6 linked regions of the Homo sapiens genome follow. The protein of the gene in region 3 purifies or fractionates together with the protein of the main gene of each other region. This does not show direct contact. Each region holds a gene or a part of one and is shown on either strand. Other genes may lie near its edges.

The links.
Region 1: the proteins of GOLGA8A (region 3) and DMBT1 purify together in Homo sapiens (affinity purification with mass spectrometry; one large-scale study listed by BioGRID and IntAct). This does not show direct contact.
Region 2: the proteins of GOLGA8A (region 3) and ZNF320 purify together in Homo sapiens (affinity purification with mass spectrometry; one large-scale study listed by BioGRID and IntAct). This does not show direct contact.
Region 4: the proteins of GOLGA8A (region 3) and ZNF483 purify together in Homo sapiens (affinity purification with mass spectrometry; one large-scale study listed by BioGRID and IntAct). This does not show direct contact.
Region 5: the proteins of GOLGA8A (region 3) and TRIM26 purify together in Homo sapiens (affinity purification with mass spectrometry; one large-scale study listed by BioGRID and IntAct). This does not show direct contact.
Region 6: the proteins of GOLGA8A (region 3) and GCA purify together in Homo sapiens (affinity purification with mass spectrometry; one large-scale study listed by BioGRID and IntAct). This does not show direct contact.

Annotation. Positions count from the first base shown.
Region 1 is NC_000010.11:122,626,754-122,630,253, reverse strand, and holds part of DMBT1 (scavenger receptor cysteine-rich domain-containing protein DMBT1 isoform e precursor), read right to left. Parts: intron 415-3,500; coding exon 261-414; intron 1-260.
Region 2 is NC_000019.10:52,894,836-52,898,811, reverse strand, and holds the start of ZNF320 (zinc finger protein 320), read left to right. Parts: upstream 1-1,176; 5' UTR 1,177-1,292; exon of another isoform or gene 1,293-1,334; intron 1,335-3,376; exon of another isoform or gene 3,377-3,976.
Region 3 is NC_000015.10:34,427,809-34,431,308, reverse strand, and holds part of GOLGA8A (golgin subfamily A member 8A), read left to right. Parts: intron 1-3,500. UniProt on the Homo sapiens protein: May be involved in maintaining Golgi structure.
Region 4 is NC_000009.12:111,523,817-111,527,978, forward strand, and holds the start of ZNF483 (zinc finger protein 483), read left to right. Parts: upstream 1-1,362; 5' UTR 1,363-1,446; intron 1,447-1,760; exon of another isoform or gene 1,761-1,977; intron 1,978-2,001; exon of another isoform or gene 2,002-3,347; intron 3,348-3,451; 5' UTR 3,452-3,579; coding exon 3,580-3,991; intron 3,992-4,162. UniProt on the Homo sapiens protein: May be involved in transcriptional regulation.
Region 5 is NC_000006.12:30,203,407-30,206,906, reverse strand, and holds part of TRIM26 (tripartite motif-containing protein 26), read left to right. Parts: intron 1-2,141; 5' UTR 2,142-2,251; intron 2,252-3,500.
Region 6 is NC_000002.12:162,347,132-162,350,631, forward strand, and holds part of GCA (grancalcin), read left to right. Parts: intron 1-446; coding exon 447-611; intron 612-3,500. UniProt on the Homo sapiens protein: Calcium-binding protein that may play a role in the adhesion of neutrophils to fibronectin. May play a role in the formation of focal adhesions.

The sequences.
Region 1 (3,500 bases), on a different chromosome or scaffold from region 3:
AATTCCTATTGCCCCTCCATTTTATAAATAGTTTGCACTTTACGAGGGATGCCATTGAATACAGGTTTTTCTTCTAGCTCTTCCTCAATTAAGTCAAAGGACATCAGTGTTCCCTGATGCTTTATGGTAGGAATCAAAGCCACCAAAAGCTTGTCCATGGCACATGAGAGTGAAAAGCATCCCAGCCCAGGACACAGTCTAAACCAGTGGGTGTGCTGCAGAGGAACTCACCCCTCACCAGATGACCAGGCATTACTTACTTCAGATTACTGAAGCCCAGGTTTATGCGATAACCAGAATTCACTTCTATTTCCCAAACACACTTAGCATTGTTGGGGTAGTATGCAGGGTAGGATGGGCTGGAGAATGTCCCACTGGCATAGAATAAGAAGCCACCACAATTTGAAGAGGGTCCTAGAGAGGAGAGAGGGGACATCTCCATTGTACCAGGTCTTCAGGTATTTTGTGACAAGGAATCATCTGTGTAAGTATCATCCAGTTTCATCTTCTGCACTTTATAACAAGACTTAACTTTCCCTGTAAACAAGTCCCCTCTCTTGGGCCTGGTTCTAGGTGGCCCAACATTAGAAGCTTTGATTCAAGTCCCTGCTTTCCCTGTTAGGCCTGGACAGCAACCCTCTGCGAGGAGGTGACCCAAGCTTCAGAGGGAGCATGTGTCACCTCTAGCAAAAATGCCAAGAAAGCAACAAAGTGACAGCTATCATTGTTCAATCAGCTACAGACAGGGACGTGGGATAGTCCTGGCTGAACACAGTGCTGACCCGTGGAGAGCACTCCATAACACAGTGTGTTCCCTAGCGTCTTCCATGAGCACAGGACTCTGCCAATTCACAAGTAGCACAACGTTGGGTTAGGAGCAGGGTTTCTGCAACAAGAAGCCTGGGTTTGCATCTTGGCTCTGCCTCTATCAGCTCCATGATCTGGAGCCAGTTACTTAACCTCTCTGCCTCAGTTTCCTCATCAGAAAAATGAGAGTGGTAATGGCATCTGCCTCATCTGTCTGATGAGGGTATTAAATAAGATATGTATATATGAACATTTATACATAAACATAAGATAGGTTTCTATGTCTATATAAACTCTTAGAGAGTGCCAGGCACATAAGCACCCAGCAATATTAGCTATTGTTATTTATCAGAAAAGGATAAATATTAAGTGGTCAAACATTTTGTTGGTTGGTTTATAGTAATAAAAACTTTTTAAAAACATGTGCACACTCAGTGATAGAAATTAAAACGTCTTTTTTTTTCTTTTTCATAACTCTTTGTTTACTTTTTCTAAGGGGATAAGTCCATGGTTTTTAGCATACTGAGAGCTCTGAAATCACCACAGTCAATTTTAGATTATTTTCATCACCCCAAAAAGAAACCCTGTACTCATTAGCAATCACTCCCCATTTCTTCTCAACACCCTCCATTCCTGGCACCCACTGATCTACTTTTCTGTCTCTATAGATTTGCCTATTGTGGACATTTCATATAAAACAAATTGTACAATATGGTAGTTTTTTTGACTGACTTCTCAATGTGTTTTCAAAGTTCATCATGTTGTAGCATAAATCAATATTAAATTCTTTTTTTTCTTTTGTTTTGTTTTGAGATGGAGTTTCGCTCTTGTCACCCAGGCTGGAGTGCAGTGGCACGATCTCAGCTTACTGCAACCTCCGCTTCCCGGGTTCAAGCGATTCTCCTGCCCCAGCTTCCCAAGTAGCTGGGATTACAGCCGCCCACCACTATGCCCAGCTAATTTTTGTATTTTTAGTAGAGACAGGGTTTCACCACGTTGTCCAGGCTGGTCTCGAAGTCCTGACCTCAGCCAATCCGCCCATCTTGGCCTCCCAAAATGCTGGGATTACAGGTATGAGCCACCGCGCCCGGCCACTATTAAATTCATTTTTATTGCCAAATAATACTCCACTGCATGGACATATCATATTTGTTTCTCGATTCACCATGATGGACATTTGCATTGCATTCACATTTGGCTACTATGAATAAAGCTGTCCTGAACATTCACATACAAGTTTCTGTATGGACATATGTTTTCATTTCTCCTGGGTATATACCTAGGAATACAACTGCTGGGTCATATGGTGACTCCAGGTCTAACCTTTCGAGGAGCCACCAAACTGCTTCTCAAAGTGGCTGTACCATTTTACATTCCCTGCAGCCGTGCATAAGGTTTCCAATTTCTCCACATCCTCATCAACACTTGCTATTATCTGGCTTTTTGACTACAGCCCACCTACTGGGTGTTTCATTTGCATGACCCTGACGGCTAATGACATTGAGCATCTTTCCAATGCCTTCTCTGCTATCTGTGAATCTTCTGTAGAGAAATATCTTTCAGGTCTTTTGCTCATTGTTCAGTTGGGTTATTTGACTTTTTATCATTGACTACAAGAGTCACTTATATATCCTAGATACAAGTCCCTTATGAGATAGAAATACGTTCTCCCATTTGATGGGAAGACAGTGTTTCTTGAAGATCATGTGGCCTGCCCTCCCTTTCTATTTCTACACTGGGAAATAATTAAGGATAAAGTCAAACTTTCAGAGACAAGGATACGAGTTACATATTTCTAATCATTAAATATAAATGGTTATAAAATATGCTATTGTATATAGTCACTTAACATTATAAAATATAATTGGAAACAATGTTTTTGCCCCACAATTAGTAACCGTTTAACTAAATGATGATATATCTATACAGTGGAAAATCATATAGTCATTAAACCTTCTTCTATACAAATAATTTCAATGTTATAAAAATGCTAATTTTAAGGTCATGAAAAAAGTATTATATACACTTAAATGAAAATGATGGGTTATACAATGGGATATAAAGCATGCCATACTGTGTGTGTGTGTGTGTTTGTGTGTGTGTATACAGTGTATGGAATGTATGCCAAAATGCCAACAGTAATTATGTATTTATTCATTAATTTATCCATTCATTCATTCACTCATTTATTCCTTCAATAAACAGTTCTTGAAAGGCAGACACAATGCTAGATAATAAGGATACATTATGAAAAAGGCAGACATGGCCCCTGCCTTCAGGAAATGCAGTTTGGCAGAAAAGATAAACATGATCTTTTGCAAATATATTTCCAATTAGCTAATTCTCAAGATTAAAATCTTTCTGCAGCCTCCCTACCTTTAGGATAAAGATGGGAGTCTTAACCCACCCACAAGGCCCTGAATGATCTGGCCTCACCCGACAGATTTCCTGCAGTCCCTCCTTGCCCGCACCCCACCCTCCTTCAAAGAGCCAAGCTCCTTCCCACCCTAGGGCCTTCAAAGCATCCCTTCTGGTTAGAAGACACTTCAGCAAATGAACCTGCTCCTCTATTAACTCCCAGCTTAAATGTCACTTCCATAAGGAACTTCCCCTAACTCCCCAATCAAGGAAGATCTCTACTAATACTTCCTCTTTGCACACTGAACTTTTCCTTGGAAACAGTTGTCACAACT
Region 2 (3,976 bases), on a different chromosome or scaffold from region 3:
ATTCCAGACATTGTATAGAAGAACATTGTAAAACTCCCCGCTCTGTTCTGTTTCTCTCTGACCACCGGTGCATGCATCCCCTGTCACGTACCGCCTGCTCGCTCAAATCAATCACGACCCTTTCATGTGAAATCTTTAGTGTTGTGAACCCTTAAAAAGGACAGAAATTGTGCATTCAGGGAGCTCGGATTTCAAGGCAGTAGATTGCTGACGCTCCCAGCTGAATAAAGCCCTTCCTTCTACAACTCAGTGTCTGAGAAGTTTTGTCTGCCGCTAGCCCTGCTACACACTGTTACAATGTCAATGCTTTTTTTAAAAATCCCTTTTTTTCTTATTGAGGCGGAGGAAGGAGCTCTGGGGTAGAGGGTCTTACTTTGTCGCCCACGCTGGCCTGGACCTCCGGGCTCAGCGGTCTTGCGGCTCCTGCTTCCTGAGTAGCCGGGACCCCAGACTCGCCACCTCGCCCACATCCCTGCTGTGTTTAAGCAGGAGGTGGTGACCTCACTCCTCCCTGGCCTGAGGCCTCCGCTCCGCACCCCAGGCGGTGGCCCTGAGGAAGTCTCTGGAGCTGAGCACAGGGTGGATTCTCCCACCCCAGTGAATGGAAAATAGAAAGGGAGAGGATTTGCTATTCTGTTCTGTGGGCCGTCAGCAGGAAATTGGAGGTTTCGCTGAGGCAGAGCTTTGTATTTCGCATTCTAGTTTGCATTCCTTCCCTTGACAACTTCCAGATTTTGGACATAAATTGCTAAAATTAATTTCAATAGCAAGGAACTTTCCTGGGTCCAATGACCGCCTCACGTTGACTTCTCAGGGAGGTACTATTTCAATGACTGCTGAGCTGCTCCAGCCTCACTGGCGGCTTTCGCCTCCAAAACCTGGAAAAAAGGCGCAGAGAGCGAGATGGAGGAAAGCTCAGGACCCACCCGCTTCTCGCCCCCGCCGACCCCTCATAGCCCAGGACTCTTCTCCCAGCCAGGCCCCTTGTTTCTCAACCCCGCCCCGGCCTTGTTCAGGCCCCGCCCACCTCTTCGCGTCTCATCCCGGCCTAGTCCAGGCCCCGCCTACCTTCTCGGGGGTCCCGCCCAGGCCTGGCCTCTGTCCTGCGCTGATTGGCATAGACCCGGAAGCGGATGGCAGGGACTGAAGGTCACACCACAGCGCGTGAGTTTCGCTCTGTTTTATGTGTGCTTCCCAGTCCTGTGGTGCTGCTATACCGGGGACGTTGAGTCCCCACAGACCTGGAAATTGCGGCCCCTCTTTCTCAACCCAGAGCAAATTGAGACGTCCGGGTGAGAGTCCGTGAGTCCCTTCGAGTTTAAAGTGGCCCTGAGGCAGGTCCCGTCCTCGGTCTTTCTGCAGTGGGGTCGTGCAGACACCTCCTATCGCGGAATTTTCCTTCTCAAAACCCTTCCTGACCTGTCCTCCCGCCTCGCGCTGTTTCAAGTCCTCACCCGCGAGCTGGATTCCAGCCCTAGGCGCCTCCCACCGTCGCTCTCGGCGGCTTCAGGAGCGCCGCGCCTCAACCCCGGTTCCCGGGAGGCCGCGTCCTCTGCCTGGTCCTAAGATCCTGCAGACGCCACCCCTGTCCGAAGGCTCCGTCGCTCCCCACCTCCCTCCTTGTGCGGTGTTGCTACCTAGTTCCAACTCCTGGAAAACGAATATATGCAATCAAGAAAGCACTCCACAGAGGGGAGTGGGCCCGAGCCAGCGTCTCCGGGGACCCGTTTAGAAAGTTTTAGGGGGTTAAAGTATTTATTTTGAGGTCCCTATGGGCTACCCCTTATCTGGATGAAGGATTTTTGGCCCTTGGCCAACGAAATGCTGAGGTGAATTGGCCCGAGGCCGGAGCAGATGGGTGCCCTATGCAGATGAAGGTGTGGCCGGTGCTTGGCCATGGCCACTCCTGGGCTCTTTCCCTTTCTGAGACGTGGTGGAAGGAGGAGGGCGGTAGGGACAGCGGCCTTTGATCCTTTGTTACTCCGGATGGGGAGATGGGGTTTTTCCTTTTTGTCTAGTTTTAGAAAGTTTGCCTTAATTGGCCTTAGATTCGCTGCCCCCAGACCCAGGACCCAGGTATTTCTTTTTTATTCTTTTTTATTGGAGATGGGGTCTCACTCTGTTGCCCAGGCGGGAGAGCGGTGACAGGATCACAGCTCACTGCATCATCAACATCCTATGCTCAAGCGATCCTGTCACCTCAGCCTGCAGAGTAGCTGGGACCACAGCCGCGCGCCACCACACCGCGCTAATTTTTGTGTACTTGGTAGAGACGGGCTTTTGCCTTGTTGCTCAGGCTGGTCTCCAACTCCAGGGCTCAAGCGATCCAGCTGTATCGCCCTCCCAAAATGCTGGAATTACAGGCATGAGCCACCATGCCCGCCTTGTTTCTTAATTAAAAAATAAATAAATAAAAATAAAGGCCGTGTGCAATGGCTCATGCCTGTAATCCCAGCACTTTGGGAGGCCAAGGCGGGCAGATCACCTGAGGTCAGGAGTTCGAGACCAGCCTAGTCAACATGGCGAAATCTCGTGTCGAATAAAATACAGAAATTAGCCAGGTGTGATGTCGGGCGCCTGTAATCCCAGCTACTCAGGAGGCTGAGGCAGCAGAATCCCTTGGACAGGGAGGGGGAGGTTGCAGTGAGCTGAGATCATGCCACTGCACTCCAGCCTGGGGTGACAGAGCGAGACTCCGTCTGAAAAAAGTAAGATAACTACTTTTCAAATAAGCTTTGGTAGAATCTTATGAGCTCACATCATTGTTTTCCAACTATGATATGAGTTCAAAATTTTCTTCTTTGACCCTACATTTTATTAGATATATACATTTTTAGATGTATATATTTTTAACCATTTTAAAAGTTTCTCTATGAAATTTGTTGTGTTCAGTTTACATAGAAGACTGCATGCTTTCTAGTCTGTATCATATATTGGAAGCATTTACTAGTACCTGATAAATGATTTTAGGTTGTTTCTTTTTTTCTTTCTTACTTTTTTTTGAGACAAAGTCTCCCTTCTACCCCCAGGCTGGAGTGTGATGGCACGATCTCGGCTCACTGCAACCTCCGTCTTTTGGGTTCAAGCTCTTCTCCTGCCTCAGCCCCCAAGTAGCTGGGATTACAGGCGCCTGCCACCACGCCTGGCTAATTTTTGTATTTCTAATGGAGACGGGGTTTCACCATGTTGGCCAGGCTGGTCTTGAACTCCTGACCTCAGGTGATCCGCCCACCTCAGCCTCAGAAAGTGCTGGGATTACAGGTGTGAGCCACCGTGCCTGGCCAATTTTAGGTTGTTTCAATGTGTACTTTATAAAGATATCAAGGACCTATTTTGTTTGTTTGTTTTGAGATGGAGTTTTGCTCTTATTGCCCAGGCTGGAGTGCAATGGCGCGATCTTGGCTCACCACAACCTCCGCCTCCTGGGTTCAAGTGATCTCCTGCCTCAGCCTCCCCAGTAGCCGGGATTACAGGCATGTGCCACTGCGCCAAGCTAATTTTGTATTTCTAGTGGAGATGGGGTTTCTCCATGTTTGTCAGGCTGGTCTCAAACTCCCAACCTCAGGTGATCCACCCACCTCGGCCTCCCAAAGTGCTGGGATTTAAGGTGTGAGCCACCACGCCCGGCCCCAGGACCTTTCTTCTTTACGCTAACATCAAAATTTGGTTCAAGTAGCCTATTCTATTTTCTTTCCTTATGTCATCTGATAAAATGGTGAGCTGTGAGCTTCTAAGTAAATGTCTCCCTCAAGTTCCTCTGGTTCATAATATTCCTTGCAGATGTTGAACGATGGGCTGGATTGTTTTGGAACCTTGTTCCAGCAGAGCCCATGTGTTCATGAAGAAAACATTTGCTTACAGCTTATGACTACCATTGCCTCTCTTTCAGTGTTTTTTGTTGTTGTTGTTGTTTTGGTTTTTGTTTTGTTTTGTTTTGTTTGAGAAGGAGTCTCACTCTGTCACCCAGGCTGGAGTG
Region 3 (3,500 bases):
ATATATATATATATATAATTTTTTTTCATTTGGTTGGTTTGGCATTCCTGGAATTGATTCTCCAGCAAGGCAGCTCTAAATATGAATTCCTCTGAACTGTTGTATCTGTTCTTAATTTAATAAACAAGTATCGTTTATGGTTTCCCGCAGTTGGTTTGATTATCAACTGTCTTGGAAAAATCCATTGTTTCAAAAATAGTAAAGCCACTAGTTGAGTAACCGCATGCATTTAGGGATGATGGATTTCTCAGGTCTCTCTGGAAGCAAGTGTGTGCATTGTACAATTAAAACACAGTTTCTGTTTCTCAGTCTTTTGGTGTAATAAGTGAGCCATGTGCTCTAGCATCTGTCTGAATTATCCGGAGCTGGTGGCAGCTGTCACGGGTGTGGTGCAGTGGGGCCAGGCGTGTGTTAGGAACTGGAAGCTCTGGGAAGCCAGGCTCTGCCTCCACGTGTGAGCCAGCTGTAGAGCGTCACTGCTCAGAGTTTGTCTTGACTCATCCCGAGAAGGGCACGTGGAGGTCTGTGTCCCATTCCTCACCAGCCACTGAGTTACTATGGATGGAGGAGATGAGATGTGTGCAACTGTTCTGCTACAGTAAAGCACGCAGTCAGTGCAGTCACCAGGGTTAGGATGTGTGAGTGTTTTACCAACCTGCCTGCTGGGTTTCAGACACCTGGCACTACCTCCAGCCTCTAACTGATTCTGGCTAGTACGCGTGAAAGCTGTCAGCTGAGTGATGAGTGGGCCGATTTTGGCCACAGGTCCCTGCACTTCCCACCTGGCCTGACTGCTAGATTCTGAGCCCCTGAGGCAGGACTGAGTGGGTCAGATTGATGGCTGATTGTCTCGGGAATGGCATTGGGTGAAGTCGAGATTTTCCTGACCCACAGCTCCTACTAGAAGTGCCTTTGTTTTGTGCATGTATTGTGAAGATTCTGCCTGTGAACTTTCTCTACCCTTTGAGTCCTAAGGTTCAGGTACCTGGAGAGGAGCGTGTCATCGTTTTGCAGGTGGGATGTGCGGTTGTTGGGGAAGACGTCTTTGTGCTGTGTTGGGTTGGAAGCTTTGAGAGCAGAAGCCCCTCCAGACCAAGAACTCCTGATTGTGTCTTTCCCTTGAGCTTTCACAGATTTCAGCTTCTAAATTAACTGCATTTTATTAAGTAATGGTTTTCTTCTTGATCACAGGCGTGCCTGTGCTTAATCAGCACTGAGGACTGGTGCTACTTCAGTTGATTTGATACACCTAGAGGCAGCCTCATCTCCAACTTGTCTTGGTTTCATTTGGGGAGCTGCCGTGGGGGACCCCTGGACTGGCAGCATTCCCACTCCTCACTTTGGCAACCCCGGCCTAACTCCTTGTATGTGTTGCTCCTTTTATCTGTCACATAGGGTGGCTTAATCTAATAGTGGAAACAAAGGGGTGCGGGACACTAACCTGGTAGGTCTCACCTTGCCCGTCATTCACCTCTCAGTCCTTTGACACTCAAGGACTCTGCAGTGGTACAACCGGGAGCAGGTACCCTTCACTTTTCTTACCCCCGAGTCCCTTTGCCTGGAGCACTGTCCATCTATCCAGCCGTGTACTCAGTAGGTATTTTCTGAGAAGCTACTATATTCCAGCTTTCTTGTTCCCAGTTTAGAGCTGGGTGGGATCAGGAGGAAGGGCATGGAAGGGGTTGCTGGAGAATGTGCAGTGGCATCAGAGCCCCATTCTGGCTCTGGGTCCAAGGCCCTCCTAGAGAGGCACAGTCTGGAAGATGTGAGAGCCCCACGGTAGGTTGGGGTGGATCATGGACCCCATCCTAGAAGAGTGGGTGGGTTTGCCCGTTCAGAGCCCAGGCCAGAAGAGCCCTCTCGGCAGAAGGGCCAGCCTGGAGTGTGGCACCCTGGGCATAGGGAGGGCCAAGTTTTTGGCAGCAGGATTATGTAGTTTGTGTAGGTCAGAGCTGGAGATGGGGGTTGGGGGGCAGTTCCTGACCATTAGGGGCTTGGTAGCCCTGGAGAGCCCTTGCTGTGGGTTGGGAGCAAAGTAGGTGGGCCAATAACAACACATATTTTACCAAGTGAATTCTAGGAGAGTGATTTCTGCAGCTGGCTTCCCTAGTGGACAGTTCAGAGCATGGGAGGAAGACGCGGTCAGGGGCGTGTTGAGAGGTGCATCCAGAGGCGAGAGGAGGGTGTGGGGAGGTATGAGCAGAAGATGTGACATGGGGTGGGGAGGGGTGCAGTGAGGACGCAGGAGGGTGGCGGGGGCAGGTGTCTGGCCGAGGCACTGCCAGCATCACGGGGAGGCTCTGGAGCCCACTCCCCACTGGGTTCTGTAGGAGGTGGCAGCTGATGCCAAGTCCCAGCCTTGCTAGTGCAGACGTTTTATTTTACCCTTCTTTTTTTTTTTTTTTTTTTTTAACAAGGATTTACAGGATTTGTAGATTAAATTGCCCCTGTTCTCCAAGAAGCAGCGGGAACAGCAGCGCTGCAGGGTGATGGGCTGCAGAGGCCTCTGCAGCAGGGTGGGGTCTGGGGAGACATTCGGGTGCCTCCTGTCCACGGCCTCGATAGGCCAGGGCGCCTGCAGCTTGGGCCCTCTTCCCCTTTCAGGTGGAGGGAGCTGTTCATCCTCTGGGGGCTGCTGGGCAAGAAACATTTCTTACGTGATAATGTGAAGCGTCAGAGGTCCCTGTTTGATAGGTAAGTTGCTGTATGTTTTGGAGCTGCAGGCAGTCTGTTTTTCTCACTAGCATGGTGTGGAGGTGGGGGACAGTATTCCCTCCCGTGAGGCCCACGTCCGCTTCATTATCCCTGTCTGCTGGGACTGCGCTGGATGCTGGCTGAGGCTGCCTTTGTTACTTCCATGCGCTGTAACTGGAAAGGCCTGCTGCTTGTTAGGCTCCTTAGAAATGTGATTTGAAGGCTGGGCACGGTGGTTCATGCTGTAATCCCAGCACTTTGTGAGGCTGAGGAGGGAGGATCGCTTAAGCCCAGGAGTTTGAGATCAGCCTGGGCAACACAGGGAGACCTCACCTCTACAAAAAAATAGAAAAATTAGCCAGATGTGGTGGCTCACGGGTGTGGTCCTAGCTACTTGGGAGGCTGAGGTGGGAGGATCGCTTAAGCCCAGGAGGTTGAGGCTGCAGTGAGTTGTGAGGGTGTCACTGCCCTCCCCTGGGTGACAGAGTGAGAACTTCTCTCTCTCAAAAAAAAAAAAAGAAGTCTGATTTGAAGGAGAGAAAGCTCCATTTGATGTGGGGGTTGGGAGTGGAGAGCACCTCTGCGATTAGACCTTTGTATCATCTTGATGATTTTAATCAGACATCTAATATTATGCTGTAGTTCATGTCAACTGATTTCCCAAACCTGAATTTCAGAGACTTCCCATGACACATCGGGCAGTGGGAGTGGGGATGGTGAGAGACTGTTAGTTATTCCAGGAAGAGAGGCCTTTTCTGATTGTCCTGCTCACCAGCACACTGAGGGGCTGGGCCGGTGACCTGATG
Region 4 (4,162 bases), on a different chromosome or scaffold from region 3:
CGCGTGGGTCAGGCTGGTCTCAAACTCCCGACCTCAGGTGATCCACCCGCCTCAGCCTCCCAAAGTGCTGGGATTACAAGCATGAGCCACCGCGCCCGGCCATTCTCAGCCCTGTCTCTTCAGCTTGACTTGCTGCCTGTGATAAGCCCACTCCTTTTGAGAGGAGTGGTTCATTTAGTTGAGCTTGCTCTGCCCTTTTGAAGTCTCAGGGCCTTGAATCACCTTGCTCCTTCAGTCTAGAATGAATCTAGTCTTTCTCTCCTAACTCCACCCCTTCAGGGATCATCCAGTTATTAGAACCCTCCAAACAATTTTTCTGGAGTTCTTTGGCCCTTTTTGCAATGCCCCCAATAATCCATGCAAATACTCATTCATAAGCTCAACAAATATCTATTGAGTGCCTGCCATGGGCCAAGTCCTGTTCCAGGACCTAAACACACAACCTAGAACAAATGAAATAAAAATACTTACTCTTCTGAAATTAGTATTCTACTGGAGAAGGCGGACAAGTAGTAAAAAAAAAAATTAACAAACCTATAGGGCATGTTAGAAGAGGAAACAAGAGTAAGGTGGGATTCCTATTTAAGTGGAATGGTGGGAGAGCTTCATTGAGAAGACCTGAAGGGATGAGAGAGCGGGCCGTATGGCCACTTAGGGAAGGAGCAGGTCAGCCGGAAGTACCTGGCAGGTTACAAGAAGAGGAAGGGGTCTATCAAGATTGGAGCAGGAAAGTGGGGAAGAGGTGCGGGAGGTTACAGGGGCTAGATTCCATCAGGCCTTGTAGGCCACTATAAAGACTTGGGTTTTAACTCTGAGTGAAATGGGAAACCATTGCAGGGTTTTAAGCAAAGGAGGGTCATAATTTGACGTTTTTAAAACGTCCGTCTGGCTGTGGAGAATAGCCAAGAGAAGTAAGGTATAATCAAGAAGCTATTGCAATAATCCAGGTGAGCCATGAGGGTGGACTGGACCATGGGGGCAGGTGTGGAAGTCATAAGATTAATATGTGTTTAACTCAAGTTGTGGCATTAATTATGGCTTGCATTAAATGCATCGGTAATATGCTTCTGCGGTGGATTTTTCCACCTTAGATTTCAGGGAATGGAAGTGATGGGAGCGGGTAGGGAAGGTCTGAGGTTACTAAACAGATGGAGCCTCCTGGATCTGCAAACCTCATACGATTCTAGGCCTCTGAGCCTCTGGCGCAGCAATAATTCTGCAGCCGAGCCCACTAGCCGCTTCCCAGTGACCATGCGCAACAGGCAGGTGGGAGCCTATGGAAAGCGCGGACTTTCGGAAAGCTGCACGAGCGCGTTCGGGGAGTCCGGTTCAGCGCCTCTGCGCAGGCGCAGTGGTTCCCGCAGGCTTGCGCGCGCACTCGCTGCGGGACAAGCTTCTGGAAGCTCTTTGCGGTGGCGTTGGTGCTGTTTGCGGATGCTGATGCAGGTACTGGTCGTCCCGGGCCCCGAGTTTCGGGGCCGTGGCCGGGTCGCCGGCTCCGAGGGCGCACTTGGGGCGGGATGGGGGCCGGGAGCAGCCTACCAACGGGCTGTGCGCTGCGCTGCTGCTGCTTCTGTGGGAGGTGCGCACTCCGCTGCGGGATGGGGCTGTTGGCTTCCCTCCATCCCTCCCTGCGCCACTTGGGCACTGTTGACATTTTGGGCGGGATAATGCCTTGTTTTGTTTGTGGTGTGGCGGTGAGGGGGAGGCTCTCCCGTTGTGGCAGGATGTTTAACAGCGTCACTGGTTCTGCCCGTTAGATAACAGTACCACCTCTCGTCCTAGTCGAGCTAACCAAAAATGTGTCCAGACATTGCCAGAGGACCGCTGGGGGGTGAAATCTCTCCTTTTTTCTTCCCTCTGGTTGAGATCCTCTGGCTGCGTCACATTTTCACCGGGCCTCCTATGTAAACTCCCTGTAGACGGAGCCGAGTGTCTTAGTCATCGCGGAGCCCCAGGTGCTCAGCACGGCGCCAGGTACGTGGTGGGCGCCTAATATTTGGCAGAGGAATAAATGACGTCATGCTGCTGTGTGCCGGGCGCTGTACTCGGAAGTGGGTTGTTATTGGTATGGTAGTTGCAATGCGAGGCTGTCACATCCTTCACTTGTCGCATTGTAGTCCCGCTCCGGCTGTATTGTCATTTCCTGGACCCTCTGTGAGCGTGAGGACCCTTTCAGGCCTGTCCACGCCTGGCCCCGCAGCTCATGGCCCCTGGTCTCGTTCCAGCTCATTGTAGTTGCTCCGTCACTTATAGAATGAATGAATGAATGCAACACAGGGCAGTCTGTGTGCAAAGGAGTGCTTTGGGATCAAGCAGAGCATCACACCAGAAGTGACAGTTGAAAGGAGTCAGGCTTTAAAGACGAATAAAAGTTTGGTAGGAGAAAGAAAGCAACATTCCGAGGAGAGGGAATAGCCTTGGTGCAAAGGCTAGGAGAGTATGTAGAGAGAGAGGAGATACTAATTTATGGCTGTAGTGTCAATCGGGTAGCTAGAGCTCAAGAGGTGAGGTCATCAGACAGTGTCTCTAGATCACAATGCCATGGTCCCTGCATGTGAACTTTATCGAGAGACAGTTCGGTGGCTGGTGAGGGACTGTAAGCCGGGGAGTGATAAGATCATATTTTGCATGTTAGAAGGAATTTTTTGGCCACAGTGTGAGACTGGAGTGAAGAACCCTGTACTTAGGCAGTTTCAGAAGGATAGAATGGAGAGGTTCTTAGGAAATAAAATCGCCAGAACTTGGCGATTGATGGGAGAAGTAAGGAGGAAGAGAAATTTGAAAGTCAAATATTAAATTGGGCTTCTGAGTTGAGCAACTAGTGAGAAATGTGTGCCCTTTCATTAAGAAAGGGTAGGAGTTGTTAAATAGCTTTGTGACTGGGTCCCCTTGTGAACCTTTTCTGATAACATTTTGTTTAGGAGGAGTATTCAATCTAAAGCAACTGTTTCCTTAACCCTTAAGTAGCTCCCTGGTTTTTGACTATAAAGAAAATTATGGCTGGGCACAGTGGCTCACGCCTGTAATCCTGACACTTTGGGAGGCTGAGGTGGGTGGATCGCCTGAAGTCAGGAGTTCAAGACTAGCCTGGCCAACATGGCGAAACCCCGTCTCTACTAAAAATACAAAAATTAGCCAGGCATGGTGGTGGGCGCCTATAATCCCAGCTACTCAAGAGGCTGAGGTAGGAGAATCACTTGAACCCAGCCGGGGCAGAGGTTGCAGTGAGCCGAGATCGCACCACTTCACTCCAGCCTGGGCACCAAGAGCGAAACTCCGTCTCAAAAAAAAAAAGAAAGAAAGTTATCCTTTTAATTGAGCAGGGCTTTTCTAGGCCTTTGCTGGTATGTGTGTGGATATATTTCTCTGAACCAAACCAAGAACGATGTTTTTAGGACTAACAACAGTTTTTTTACTTATTTAATGCCTTAATATTTCTTCTTGACAGTTTCTGCAGGACTGTAAACTGGATTCCTGGAACCTTTGATATTCCTGGCTGTGTATAGTGCCTGTTGGTGGACTGTACTGATACTCAACTAGAGTGTGAAGGGACTGGATTCCTGCCCCTGAGACACAATGCAAGCTGTAGTGCCCTTGAACAAGATGACAGCCATCTCACCAGAACCTCAAACTCTGGCCTCGACTGAACAAAATGAGGTCCCAAGAGTGGTTACTTCTGGGGAACAAGAAGCTATTTTAAGAGGAAATGCTGCTGATGCAGAGTCTTTCAGACAGAGGTTTAGGTGGTTTTGTTACTCAGAAGTAGCTGGACCCAGGAAAGCTCTGAGTCAACTCTGGGAGCTCTGCAATCAGTGGCTGAGACCAGACATTCACACGAAAGAACAGATTTTAGAGCTTCTGGTGTTTGAGCAGTTCCTGACCATTTTGCCTGGGGAGATCAGGATTTGGGTAAAGTCACAACATCCTGAGAGTAGTGAGGAAGTGGTGACCCTAATAGAAGATTTGACCCAGATGCTTGAAGAAAAAGGTGAGATTTATAGATGGAGGGAGGAAGCGGGAGACATTGCCTCAAAGTCCGAAAGTAAATTCCTCAAAAGAAGGCAATTTACTGCTAAAGAGGAGTCTGAGGTTAGAAGTTGGGACTGGGTTTGAATCAGCCCTGCCATTTACTGTGTGATTTTGGGCAAGCTGTGTAAAC
Region 5 (3,500 bases), on a different chromosome or scaffold from region 3:
CCAGCCAGCTCTGCTGCTGGGCAAATGAGTCCGAGGCTCTGGCACTCACTGTCCTCCTCTGTAAATAAGGGGTTCTAGTGATTCACAGTCCTGGATAGACTTTAGAATCTCCTGGGAAGTTTGTTTTTTAATACCAGAGCCTGGGCCACCTCTGGAGATCCTAAGTCAGTTGGTCTAGGTATGTTTTGAAGACTCACCAGTTTGAAGACTACAAATCTGATGTGTAGTCAAGGTTTGAACCATTCCACAAGATGATAAAGGATTCCTTCCTATATTTGGTGCAAAGCACCAAGTGACACTTAGGAATATTTTAGACAAGAGAGCTTGGTTCATGATTCAACATTAGACAGATATTCTGGCACAAATATGAAGAACCCTCAATTTTCCCCTGTGGGTCAGCCACAAGACCAGGGCAATTTAACGCCTTGTCTCATCCACCTCCCAGCTGGCTGCTACCTCCTGCCCCTCTTTGAGCCCTGTGGGGATTTCTAGCGTTCAGAGCCCTGGTAGTTTTTGTGGCCTGCACTGTGCTTCAGAGCACCACTGATGCTCGGCTCCGTGGGGAAAGTAAGCCAAGTGTGACCACAAGAACGCATCATCCACAGTCACTGGGATCTCCTGGGACAGCCTGGGATCCAGGCCTTTGGCCTGGCCAGTAGGGGTGCAGTCACTCCTAGTATGCACATCCAGATCACTTGCTTTTTGCCCCGAATTCTGGCCTCTCCAGGTTTGTTAGAGGTGTCTCACGGAAGTTTACCCCATGGAGAGTTTGCTTATCTCAGATTAAAATATGGGGATTAATCTGGGACCCAGGAGCCCTTAAATGGAGTACCCACAGGGAATGGAGCTCTAGGCTAAGTGCTTTGGGATTACAGGTGCTTTGCTCTTGTTTGGAGGTCCAGACATATGCTTGAGAAGCAGCTTGGGATACTCAAGAGAGGCCTGAACTGGTACCCTGGAGGCCAGGATGAAAACCCAGGCCTCTCCATTTACTTTCTTGGGCCCCAGAGTCCACATTTGGGATTCACTGTCTACCAGGGCACCTCTCTGGGTGGCATCTAGGAGCCGGAGGCAGGCCAGAGTTTCACCCAGGCTGGAGTGCAGTGGCGCAGTCATGGCTGTCTGCAGCCTCAACTTCCCGGGCTCGGGAGATCCTCCTGCCTCAACTTCCTAAGTAGCTGGAACTATAGGCATGTGCCATCGCACCCAGCTAATTCAGCTAATTTCTTTTTTTGGAGACAATGTCTCACTATATTACCCAGGCTGGTCTCAAACTCCTGGGCTCAGGCAGTCCTCCTGCCTTAGCCTCCCACAGTGCTGGAATTACAGGCACAAGCCCCCGTGCCCGGCTTTCAGCTAGTTTTTGTAGCTCATAGTGATTATTCTTGGAGCCAATAATCGTGCATGCATCCACATCTTGAAATTACATGGTGTCACCTTGACCAGTCTGTTGACATATGCAGATTAGGTATTTATGAGATCCAGAGACTTATAGGGGAGGGGTGGATTTCAGGGAAAAGGGAACCTCTTAGAGAAAGGTAGGGAGTGTCTGCAGTTCTGCCTGTGAGGAGGGTACCAGGACATTGCAGGGCTTGTTTGTTGCATCTTCCTGGTTCTATAGAATTGCAGCTAGCTTCTGGTTTATTTTTTCATTTTTATTTTTTGAGATGGAGTTTTGCTCTTGTTGCCCAGGCTGGAGTGCAATTGGCGTGATCTCAGCTCACTGCAACCTCCGCCTCCTGGGTTCAAGCGATTCTCCTGCCTCAGCCTGCCCAGTAGCTGGGATTATAGGCATGCGCCACCACACCTGGCTAATTTTGTATTGTTAGTAGAGATGGGGTTTCTCCTTGTTGGTCAGGCTGGTCTCAAACTCCCGATCTCAGGTGATCCACCCGCCTCTGCCTCCCAGAGTGCTAGGATTACAGGCAGAAGCCACCGCGCCCGGCCGCTTCTGGTTTATTGAAGAGACAGAAAAATACCCCCTCACCCCCAGCAGGGATGTGTGACCTCTGGTGCAAGGGAGTTCATGAAGTGACTTCTTCAGGTTCAGAATTCTCATCTGAGTAAAGGGAGTGGGGGTGGAGTGGGTCATCTCTGAGGTTTTTTTTTTTTGGCTCTGATTTTGGTTTCTGTCTGCCCAGGAGTCAGGAATGGAGAGAAGGGTAATGGTTTTACCTCTTATTGTGGAAACCTGTTGAGATCACAGAGAATATACTGACGGCATAAAAGGGCAGAACCATAGCAGGGTGCGGTAAGTTGGGGAAGAGTTTTTGGAGAGGGTGAATTTTGCATTGGACCTGACAGAATTGTGTATGGGGAAGGGGAGCGGTTATTCTGGTCTGCTCACATCTCTCATACTCAACCTCATTTCTCCTAATTCTGAAATCTTGAGATCCTCTATCACTAAGAAGGAAAACTACTGTCCAACAGGGACACTTTATTGCTCACCCCATATGTGAAAGTTTGTCATAGCTAAGGCTAGGGTGCTTTTGGTCAGTATCAGCAGAATATATGCCCCCTTTCTTTTGTCAGCATTACTCCGCTTACAAAGCCCTTCCATGTAGATGACCTCATCTGAGCTTCCTAACAAAGGAGCTGGTATTAGACCCCATTTTACAGTGTGCCTGGGTAGGGAAGAGAGTGTAGTGGATTGAGCAGAGGCCTTGGCACCAGACACTGCTTCCTAGCCATGTGCTCTTGGGCAAGTTGCTTAACCCTGCTGAGCCTCAGTTTCCTCAGAAGGAGTCTGTATAAGCAAGGGAAGGGATTGGTCATAGAAGTGGTACTGTGTTTCATTTATCTGGTTATGGCAGACTCTCAAAAACAAATGGTTCTATACAACTAACATTGTCTGCAATTCCCCTGAATCCATTCACTTGTTCAGTAAATGTGTATTGAGCTTCTACAAGGTGTCAAGCACCATGATCTCTGTATCAGTGATTTAACCATTTTTGATGGTTACTACAGACCTCTTTAAGAATGTGATAGAAAACTGTAGCTCCCTCCCCAGAAAACTTTTCTAGCTTTTTATTTTGCTTTGCAGTGAGCCAAGATAGTTCCACTGCACTCGGGGGACAGAGTAAGACCCTGTCTCAAAAAAAAAAAAAAGAAAGGAACCATTTCAAATTAGGTGGGAGACATGGAGCTCTAAATACTACAGCATCCATTGCCTAGAAATACAGGTATTCTCAGCCGGGCGCGGTGGCTCACACCTGTAATCCCAGCACTTTGGGAAGCCAAGGCAGGTGGATCACCTGAGGTCAGGAGTTTGAGACCAGCCTGGCCAACCTGGTGAAACCCCGTCTCTACTAAAACTACAAAAAATTAGCCGGATGTGGTGGTGGGCACCTGTAATCCCAGCTACTAGGGAGGCTGAGGCAGGAGAATCGCTTGAACCTGGCAAGCGAAGGTTGTAGTGAGCCAGATTGCGCCATTGCACTCCAGCCTGGGCAACAAGAGAAAAACTCCATCTCAAAAATAAATAAATATATTAATAAATA
Region 6 (3,500 bases), on a different chromosome or scaffold from region 3:
ATACAATACCCAACATATTGTAAATGTTGACACTTAAAGTTTCATTGTATTTACACATATATTCTTCTAAGTATGTGTCTTGAGGTTTACTTCTTAGTTTTACTTTAGGTAAAATCTTGCATTGTTTTACTTTTTGTTTACTTCAGTGATGTTGGTAAACATTTTTTAAAATTGTACATGTTCCTCTTAGATTAAGTTCTTAGAGGCTAGTAACTTTCTTTTTTCTTTTATACTTCTTTTAATGCTGGGTAATATATGTTGATGAATTGAATTATGTCTTAATGTAGGACATCTAACATTTTGTAGTTAAAATTTTTGTGATAAGATTATAAGCTTTTGGTAACTGTTTACTTTTTGACGGACTTCTAATAATTTCTTTTAATCCAACTTTCATAGATAATAGGTAGTATTTATATTACTAACCTTCTCCCCTTTCACTATTATAGTTTGGAAATTTTAGCATTCAGGTGCCAGGAATGCAGATGGGACAGCCAGTGCCAGAAACAGGCCCAGCTATACTCCTCGATGGATACTCTGGGCCAGCATATTCAGACACTTATTCCTCAGCTGGTGACTCCGTGTATACTTACTTCAGTGCTGTTGCTGGACAGGTGAGATGCTAAATTTATTGCATAAATATGTCTTTAAAATTATTGTTTAAGAGAAATGTCAGCTATTTAGAGTATCATTTTAAATGTATATGAAATTTATATTTTATATGTATCTAGACTAATTTTTTTCCTGAGATCAGAGATGAGCATAGTCATAATTATTTCATTTTAAAAGTCTGTTGATGTGATGCTTGATACATTGTTCATTTGACTAAAAGAGGAAACATTGTTTTCCATAGTGCGGAAATCTGATTCTTTCTTACCTAGTATGCTTGCGTTACTGAAATTCTTCTACAAGGGGCTCCTCTTACTAGTCACTAAACACCCCACCAAAACTTAGATATATCTTCTTATGAGTTATAATTTTTCTGTCACTTAAATCTTTTTATTTCCTTCACTCTGTTTGACATTTAGGAGCATCATACTCTCCCTGAGTGATAGATAACACAAAGCTAAGTAGGTTTAGCCTGCACATTCTTTTATAGCATGCAAAAATGACTATTGGAAATTTTAGGAAAGTAGGAAGCACTTTAAAAAATTATAAGGAACAATATTTCTAACTTGGGCCTCACTCCCATTTTTTAAAAAAAACTCAGTTAAAACCTAAGTATGTCAAACAATATGATTGGAAATCACTTCAGAGTCTCGTAAATTTATTCAGGTTGAGAAATTACATTTTTTTCACAGGTGAAGTTATATCATTTATAGTAATTTTGATTTGATATGGCTGGTAAATTTTCCAGGTTATCAAAATAATCATGTCAGGATTTATTAATTAAAAATTAAAGGAAATAGTATGTTACGATGTGGTATGGTTTTAGGATGTTATTTGTTTCCAGTAAATTTGAGTGATTATTTAAAGGACTGACTTTATTATGACCAATAGGGACGTGTGAAACTGCCAGTTCAAGTACATGAATTCTGTGGGTGAATTGTTACTGATGATATGTGAATACTGTGGTCAACGGAAGCTTTTCTTTTACTCCTACATAACTGTAACACCATACCACAGTTTATTCTTTTCCAAGTGATTTTATATATATTTTTCATGTGAAATTTCAAGGAAAATTAAGCAAATAGGATATGTATTATACCCCTTTGTATCAGTTATTAGTTGTATTTGACAGAAGTATTGAGTAAATATTCAAGATCGGAAGGAATACAATATTATAAGATGCCAATGTCTTCCAAATTAATTGATAAATAATATAATATTATATGAGTCAAATTCCTAAAGGTTTCTTTTTCTTTTTTCTTTTTGGCACTTGCTGCAATGATTCTAAAGTCTGTCTTGTATACTATGTTGTTGAGAATAAATATTAAATTATAATATATCATATAAATGTATTATTAATAATTGTGATAGTGTGGTCCTAATGTAAAAACAAACATAATACTGAAGAGCCCAGAAGCTTACCTGTGAATTCAGTATATGGTAGAGGTAGCATTTCATATCAGTGGGGAAAGAATGATTCCTGAATTAACTATCCTGAAATAATTAACAGTTTATCTAAAAGTAAATGTAAATCTTCAGCCTGTACCATATAGTAGCATGAATTCCAGATATATTAAAGGATTGAAAAGAGGGTGTATTGATGTTTATCTCCTGTTGTTGAAATAAATGAGCTTGTCTTTTTTTTTTTGCTGCTGCTTCAGCATGTATTGCAGCACCTGCTATATTTGTGTTTTTGTCTACAAAACTTCTTAGAAGAGTGATGAACTAAGATAGTTGCATGTGTTAATGAAACATTTGGGAACATCTTTTTAAGATGTGTGTTTTTTTTTCTTGATATGTTTCATTCACTTGTTTAACAATTTGGGGGGAAAGTTGAAAGCTCTTCTGTGGTTATGGAATACAGTGGATTGGTGCATGGAGACTGGGGGCCAGAGAGGATTTGGAAAAAGAGATCTACATGAAAATCATCTTGAAGGAGTTGGGGCAATGTATCAAAGAGGAGATTTGTAAATTGTGGATGGTTCTGGGACAGGCTCGATGATAAAACAGATTAGGAAAAGGCAAAGAAACTGGCAGAATGGATGTTCTAATACCATACTAATGGGCAGAAACAGAAATTCACTCTAGAGTCTTAGCTGTAGTCCATATCTCTTTTCTTTTATAATGGTCAAGAAAGATTTATTGATGTAGGTAGAATTTTATAGAACTTTAATAACATTTTATTCATTCCCTTGAGTGTTCACTAGGTCTAATGTGCTTTTCTAGGATTAGACAATATACACAGAATTAATATACGTGGCAGACATTCTGTTTTGGCTACCCCAATTTCATTTAAAACCCCCTTTTACCTTTTATTATGTAATAGAGGCTGGGGAACTATAATAGTCACCATCCCAGATACCTTTGTAGCTATTAAAGGCAGCCATGTGCCGTAGGACTGACCATTGACATGTAGGTGCAGTATCTTTGGAAAATCTTTCTACCCCAAATGAAAAAAGCCTTACTGGGAGCAAGCCTTGGCTGTGGCTGTTTTTGCCCCTTCATTCTTCCTGCCTGGAAAGGGGACTTGAGGTATGGAGGTGCAGTAGCCATCTCGTGACCCTGAGACAACAGGCTTGAGATAAAGACCTATAGATAGGGAATGTGGAAAAATGTAGAGACTGATGACATGTCTAAGTTGCCATACAGCCCTGTTCTGCCTAGCCTCAGACCTATTGTATGAAACAATAAACCCCTATTGGTTTAAGCATCTTCAATAATATTTTCTCCTGTTTGCAGCTAAATGGTACCTTAACTGTTCTACTCATTATACCATTGCCATTTTAAAGGATTATACTGGGAATAAGTAGTATTATACTGAGAATAATTCTATTATCTCTGTTTGACTATATAATACATTCATCATATAAAATTACAACTTAAAGTATATGAAC